Linked DNA regions of Homo sapiens. The protein of the gene in region 2 purifies or fractionates together with the protein of the main gene of each other region. This does not show direct contact. Each region holds a gene or a part of one and is shown on either strand. Other genes may lie near its edges.

Region 1 (3,818 bases), on a different chromosome or scaffold from region 2:
CCCACTGCTGACAAATGTTTTAAACAGCTCATTCTTGGCTGAAAGACATTGCCTTTTTCAGGCAATAAAACCAAAGCTGCTCTCTGTGGGGAAGAAAATGGACCTTTTTAAAAATTTTTTTTAAATGAAGCTTCATCAATTAAAAGAAAAAGAGAAAGAATACTAGACCACTGTGTATCTGCGCATTTAACATCAAGAACGCTGAAGGAGTCCGCATGAGGGCTGAAATGCTGAAACTGCCAAAGCCGGGGTCCCCACCTCTCTGTGTAGGATGCAATCCTGAGCACCTCTCCCAACCCGGTGGTCACTGTGGGGGTGAGGGAGAGCAGAGGGGCAGCCCCAGGTGTCCCTGAGGGGGAAGAGCAGAGGGACCTGCCATGCCCTGCGTTTCCTTCACAGAAAGGCAATAACCACACCTCACTGCAGCAAATATTGACTGCCTGCCGCATAGCTCAACCCTCTGCAAACATGGCAGCGGAGGCCCGCATAGGCCAGCTGGCCTTCCAGCCGGTGCTGCTCACTGGTCTGCAGGCTCCTAGTATGGCAGCAGCGTGGGAAAGAGCAGACGGGAGTGACAACACTGAGGAAGCAGAGGTGGCGATAGTAACAGTTAGCTGGCACTTACTGAGTGCCAAGCATGGTTCTAAGGGTTCCTCTTGCATGACCACATTTATTGAATGCTCACCACAGCTCTAGCAGGTACTACATTATTGTACCATTTTACAGACTGGAGAGCCAAGGCATGGACAGGGTAAGTGACTGGCCCAAGGCTACGCAACCAGCAAGTGGCCCCAAGCCACTGCTGTTTAACACCCTGGGCCACAACATGGAAACTTCCAGAAAACAGACAAGAAAAGCCTCTGAAAGAACAGGCAGCCTTTCCCACAGTCCCAGGCTCCCAATGGCTCTGCCAACAAGTCCTGGAAAATCCACCTTCAGAGTCACACCTGGCTTTCCCTGCCACATGCTACAAGTCACAAGGTTCCTTCACACAAGTGTCTTAACCAAGCCCTGCAGTGACCCCAGCAGAAAGGCAGGACAAGCTTTGTGAGGATCCCCGATAGATCCAGGAGAAAACCAAGTCCAGAGGGGCCAAGAGACTTGCTCCAAGATGACGAAAACAAGGCTGAGGACACACACATACGCACACGCCAAGCACTGCTTGGTGGGCCACCCTGCCCCTCCACAAACTGGAATTTAAAGCACGTGACTACCTGCAGCTCGGCTTTGCTCTTCCTGGAGCTCCTTCGGACAGGGTAGAAATCCGTAAGTTTGCGATTCTGTTGCGTTTTTCCTTGAGCTCTGGGTAAGAGGGGAAGAGGAGAAAATAAATATCAGGACTGAAAACCTGGAGGCACACAGCTCCTTAGAAGGCACACACCGAGGAGGCACACAGCTCCTTGGAGATGATGTCACTTAAACACCTTTGTCCACTGGAGCCTGCAGGTCACTCAGTCACCTGCCCATGAGGGCCTCAGAGGAGTTTCAAAGACGGGCTGCTGGCTGGGCGCAGTGCCTCATGCCTGTAATGCCAACACTCTGGGAGGCTGAGGCGGGAGGATCACTTGAGCCCAGGAGTTCAAGACCAACTCAGGCAACACAGCAAAACCCCGTCTCTAAAAAAAGGAAAGAAATTAGCCAGGCATGGTGGTGCACACCTATGGTCCCAACTACTCGGGAGGCTGAAGTAGGAGGATCACTTGGTCCTGAGAGGTTGAGGCTGCAGTGAGCTACTGCACTCCAGCCTGGATGACAGAATAAGACCCTGTCTCAAAAAACACAACAGTCGGGCATGGTGGTTCACGCCTGTAATCCCAGGACTTTGGGAGGCTGAGGCAGGCAGATCACGAGGTCAGGAGTTTGAGACCAGCCTGACCAACATGGTGAAACCCTGTCTCTAATAAAAATACAAAAATAAGCGGGACATGGTGGCATGCACCTGTAATCCCAGTTACTCAGGAGGCTGAGGCAGGGGAATCGCTTGAACCCAGGAGGTGGTGTTTGCAGTGAGCCGAGATCGCACTATTGCACTCCAGCCTGGGCAACAAGAGACTCTGTCTCAAAAAAAAAAAAAAAAAAACACAAAACACCAATCACCAAAAAAGACAAACAAAAAAAATAAATTTAAAAAACAAAGGCTGCTTATGCTGGGGTGGGTAAGGAGGGGAGGAAGGAGAGGCTCTTGAACTCTGGACCCATGCCAGATCCAGAAACTGACAAACAGTGGCATCCCTGCTGATGACTCGGGGCATCTGAGTCTTTGACATGAGAGAGGCTGAGAGGTGGCCACTGAACCCCCATGGGCACCTGAGCAGGCTTCCCTGGCATCAGAGGAACCAAACTGCTCCACGTTAGGAAGAGGACTGAATGGGGCACTTACTTTTTTCGGGGGGCCTGTTTGCCCTTGATGGGCTTTTTCAGGGCTTGCTTGGCGATGGCTGCATTGGTGGAATCACAAGATGAGGGTGGAGTTTTTGGAGGTTCTGCTGCTTCAGATTTTTGGTTTGGAAAAGGTACCAGGGGACCTTTCCTGGCGTCTTTGATCTTCTGTTCCTCGGACTTCATGGCGCTCCGTACTGCGTTCCCAGCATTTCTTTTCTCTGCAGGCGGAGGTGGGGGAAAGACGGGTTTATTCTGTACTGTCTCTCAATTTCCAGACGACCAGCTGCATTCTAAGACAAGCTTTGAGAAGACAGGATCCTGGGTTTGTCAGGCAGGAGTGCCCTTGGCCTGTTAAGCCCCGTGTCCGCTATGGGCTATGACAGGGGGAGTGCCTAGCTCCAGCTCGATTTTTTGACCAAGACACTGGGCAGAGGTTTTAGGCTTTTGCATCTTGACGTGGGAGATAGAGAGCCTGTGAGGGAGAGGCACCAGAGACGGAGACGCTGGCAGGGTGCTTGATCAATAGCTTTCAGGAATCAGGTTGCAGACTCAGATCAAAAGCTCCATTCCTGAAGGCTGGGACAGCATTAGGGGACAGGAGTAAGGTGACAAAGCAGAAACTCTTCCCCAAGAGCTGCCTGGCACCCTTCATTTCAGACTCCGAAGAAAAAGAAGGTCCCCTTCTAGTGGGGTTGAAGCCCCAGGTTCACAGCAGTTCTCAGCATGGTGCCCCAGCAGACTGGCCTGGGTATCGGGAGACACACTGCAATGATCTGTCACTTAAAACACTTGTGGAGTGACAGTGTTGGAAAACTGCTTACCTTTTTAAAAAATGTTTTACTTTTAAATAACTAAGTAAATAGGCTGGACACAGTGGCTCCTGCCTGTAATCCCAGCACTTTGGGAAGCCGAGGCTGGCGGATCACCTGAGGTCGGGAGTTCAAGACCAGCCTGGCCAACATGGTAAACCCCATCTCTACTAAAAATACAAAAATTAGCCAAGTGTACTGGCGGACACTTGTAATCCCAGCTACTCAGGAGGCTGAGGCAGGAGAACTGCTTGAACCTGGGAGGCGGAGGTTGCAGTGAGCTAAGATCATGCCATTGCACTCCAACCTGGGCGAAAGAGTGAGACTCTGTCTCAAAAAAAAAAAAAAAAAGAAAAAAAAATTAAGTAAATAGTACGCTGCTCACAGATATAAAATGGTGCAGCCACTTTAGAAACAGTTTGACATTTTCCCAAAAAGTTAAACACAGAGTTACCATATGACCCAGCAATTTCACTCCTAGGCATCTATTCCAGAGAATTAAAAACATATGTCCCCAAAAAAATCTATGCAGGAACGTAACAGTTTATTTGTAATAGCCAAAAAGTGGAAACAACCCAAATGTCCATCAACAGATGAATAAACAAAATGTGGCCTATCCACAAAAGG
Region 2 (3,818 bases):
AAAAAAATTATTAAGTTAGGATGAGATCATGCCGCAGTAGGGTGGGCCCTAGTTCAATACATCCTTATAAGAACAGGCCATATAGGCACAGACATGCACAGGGAAAACCATGTGAAGATGAGGGCAGAGCTCAGGGTGATGCTTCTCCACACCAAAGATTGCCAGCAAACCACCAGAAGCTACAGGAGCTGTGGAACAGCTTCTTTCCCAAGGCCTCAGAAGGAACTGACCCTGATGACACCTTGACCTCTGACCTCTAACCTCCCCAACTGTGACACAATACATTTTGGTTGTGTAAGCCACTCAGTTTGTGCTACCTTATTATGGAAGCCTTAGCAAACTGCTTATTTTATGTCTAGTTTGTGTTTATTTTATGTCTGTAGGTCAAGACGAGACTTCTCCCTCATCTCTCCTACCTAGCACGTCAGCTCCCAAGCTGATCACAGCCATGCTCTCAACAGAGACTTGAAGCTGCTGTTTGCCATACCCCAAATCACTGACCTAGATGGAAAGTGCCTGCTCTGAATAGACTGATCACAACCAACCAAGTTAGATATGAGGCCACCCTGCCCGACTCATTCCTGAGTTGAGTTCTTCAGTAGCTACATTTGCTGAGAACCCAATATGCCTCCCATTCACTGCAGCACAAATACGACAGAAAACTCAGATTAGAAGAGTGGGAGAAAGGGTTTATATTTCTCCTCAGTATCCAAGGGAGTACTGAAATCAGAAAAATGAATATATTATGTACTTATCTAACTGGAATCTTTGATAAATAAACACAGAAATTTGTTTCACTGCTAAAAATTAGACATAAAAAGAGAATCTTACCATGAGCCCGATTTGTTAAGTGCAACATTAGTCAGTGGCAATATATGTGCTTTGAGAACCTTCAGTGAAAGAAAACACCATTTTTTAGACTCAAACCAAATTAAATTTGTTAGTTATAACTTCAAACCAATGAAGACATTCAATTTTTTCTTAATTATACATCAGAAACAGGCAATATCTGATTTACCTTTAGACAGTGCTATGTGGCATCTTATTGATAGCACTAATTTGTAACATTTTCTTTTACATATGGCATGTGGTTTTGTATACATGTATAAACTGGGTATGTAGGAAATACACTAAATATGTTTCAATAAAGATTTGACAATGTATTATGACTTTATGAATCCTGAAGCTCCTTTAGTGTCAGAATATGTCTTCCTTATCTTTCAATCCCTACAACATCTAACATACAGTGAATGTTTAATGAATATTTATTGAATGCATATACATAAATTGGACAATCTATTAAGAGTGATTGGCTGGGCTGGGACAGTCCAAGTTATGTCTGTTACCAAAATGTAACTATGAATAGCATCTACTTTCACCATCAAAAATGTTCCCTTTGGAGAATAAATTGAGACACGCTAGTTATACAGCTCATATTTGAAATTAAACAGTGCCACCTACTGGACAAAGAAATGTTACAAGACTATAACATCCTCTTCCAGAAACGAATGCCTGGATATTTTGTATCAGGTGAGTCTATAACTAATAATTATATGTTACTATCATAATTATATTTAAATCATAAAAGATAAAAGCAGTGTAATATGAAGTAATTCTAAGGTAATGACAAAGGAAAATTAAAAGCTTTCCTTGAAGTACTAAACGACTATATTTGCTATATTTAATCATCAAAAAAACTATTTAAAAAGCATATTTACATCACATTAAAATTATATGTCATACAAATAAATAATTTACTGAAATATGGTTTAGTTCACATGAAAGCAGAAAATACGAAATGTTGATTTGTCATAAAACACAACTTCTTAACGTTACTTTAACTAGAAAAAAAGCTTTAGTTATTCCATAACTTAAAACTATCTTAATAATAATAACCCTTTAAATTTATCATTATATGAAGAGCTGAAATCTTTATTTAACCTCTCAAGGAATAAGTGTTTTGGATTTCACTCATTCATTTAACAAATAATTATTGGGACAATCTTAGCAAACATATGTGAGGCACTACAATCAATCACTGACATGCCTTTTTCATGAAAAAATATTTTTAGGGAAAGAAAAATTAATAAAATATCAATCATTTCACTGAAATTCTTCTATCTGATTGTTTTTAAATCCATTACCTTAAAAAGATAGAACGTGTGATTGCTGTTCTGGCCGAGTTTCTCTTGCAACCTCTGTATCAAAAGTTTGACTTGCTCTGTTCGTGAAGCTGTGAGTAGAGGTTCTGCCTTCTGGATTTCTTCTACTAACGCACTGACATCAGTGCTGAAATACACCCAAAAAAGAGTTTCTTTTATTTTATGTCAAAATTTGCATATACCTATATTACATGAAGAATTGATTGTATTGCTTCATGAAGCACATTTATAAAATGTCAAAAACACCATTATCTTTCCCAAGAGATATCTGGGGGTGGGGCGGGGAGGATCATACAAATCAGTAAATAGATGATGGCAGGAAAGCAAGAAGCTTGGATTTTCTACAACATATTTTTCCAAAGCTAAGGCTTGTTTCATGGAGGGTGTGCCAAGAGTCTAATGTTCTCACCTAGTGTTGTGGTTTGAATGTTTGCGTCCGCTCTAAAATTCATGCTGAAACATGTTCACCAATGTCACAGCATTAAGAGGTGCGGCCTGAATAGGTAATTAAGTCACAATGGTGGAGCCCTTCTGAATGGGATTAGAAGCCCTGATAACAAGGCTTGACAAAGAGAGTTCATCCCTTTTGCCCTTCTGCCCTCTGCCATGTGAAGACGCAGCATCAAGGTGCCATCCTGGAAGCAGAGTGCAGCCCTCATCAGATGCCAAACTTGTAGGGGCCTTGATCTTGGATTTCTCAGTCAGAACTACGAGAAACAAATAACCCTGTTTCAGGTCTTTCTTTTTATGGCAGCACAAAATGAATGAAGACACCTAGGAAGGCCTAGTCCATACTAGTTCTGAACATGAGCTCTTTTTCTTTCTTTCCTGTTTCTTTTGAATGAACATGTATTGAATGTTCCCAGCAGCATACTTTTCACTTTACATATGTTCTCTTATTTAATCCTGTAACAATCTGCTAATGTAATGCTTTTATCATAATTATTTTAGAGATGAAGAAACTGAGGTTCAGAAAGATTAGATTTAAAATATTTTTAGGAAAAGAGAAAAATGCCTAACCATAAATTTAAAGCATCATAAGACTAATATTAATATTTATTATAGACTAAAATATTGTTTCCCTGAAAGATAACTGGTCTGAAAAATATACAGATAGATTCAAATTTTCTCTAGCATTCAAATAATTCATAGAAATTCTGAAAAATGTTGCTGGCACAGAATAATATTCGTTCAAAAAAAGGTATCAATGTATATACACCATGAAGCATCCAAAAAAGAGCCATTTCACAAATCATGTCACACACGTGTCCAGAAGATGCACTATGCAGATTCCCCCACCTTTAAGAAAGAATCAAGCCCAGAGTCAGGGTTGGAGCTTTGTTGCCTGACAGCTTCTAGCTGCAGCTCTTTCAGGCTGTACCTTGGCATTCCAGGCCAGGGCTGCCTCTTCTCTGGTGGCTCTCCGTCCACAGCTGAGCAGGGGCAGAGCAAGAGCCTGGCCGTTTCTCCCTGTGAGGCACTCCTCTAGCTGGCAAGTTTTGCTCCTGAGCTCTTCCAGATTGGCAGAGATTCTGTTGTCCCGCCTTCTTCATCGAGGTCAGATGGCTCCTCCCGCCTGATCCTGCTTCTGCTTCATGCCCTGGACTGTCACAAGTGTCACTGCCCAATAAACCTTTGACTCACCCACTTCTGTCT

What was found.
Region 1: the proteins of DAW1 (region 2) and KMT5A purify together in Homo sapiens (affinity purification with mass spectrometry; one large-scale study listed by BioGRID and IntAct). This does not show direct contact.

What each region holds. Positions count from the first base shown.
Region 1 is NC_000012.12:123,393,829-123,397,646, reverse strand, and holds part of KMT5A (N-lysine methyltransferase KMT5A), read right to left. Parts: intron 2,601-3,818; coding exon 2,381-2,600; intron 1,303-2,380; coding exon 1,215-1,302; intron 1-1,214. UniProt on the Homo sapiens protein: Protein-lysine N-methyltransferase that monomethylates both histones and non-histone proteins. Specifically monomethylates 'Lys-20' of histone H4 (H4K20me1).
Region 2 is NC_000002.12:227,888,327-227,892,144, reverse strand, and holds part of DAW1 (dynein assembly factor with WD repeat domains 1), read right to left. Parts: intron 2,290-3,818; coding exon 2,145-2,289; intron 891-2,144; coding exon 832-890; intron 1-831. UniProt on the Homo sapiens protein: Required for axonemal dynein assembly and ciliary motility in ciliated organs, including Kupffer's vesicle, during embryogenesis. Facilitates the onset of robust cilia motility during development.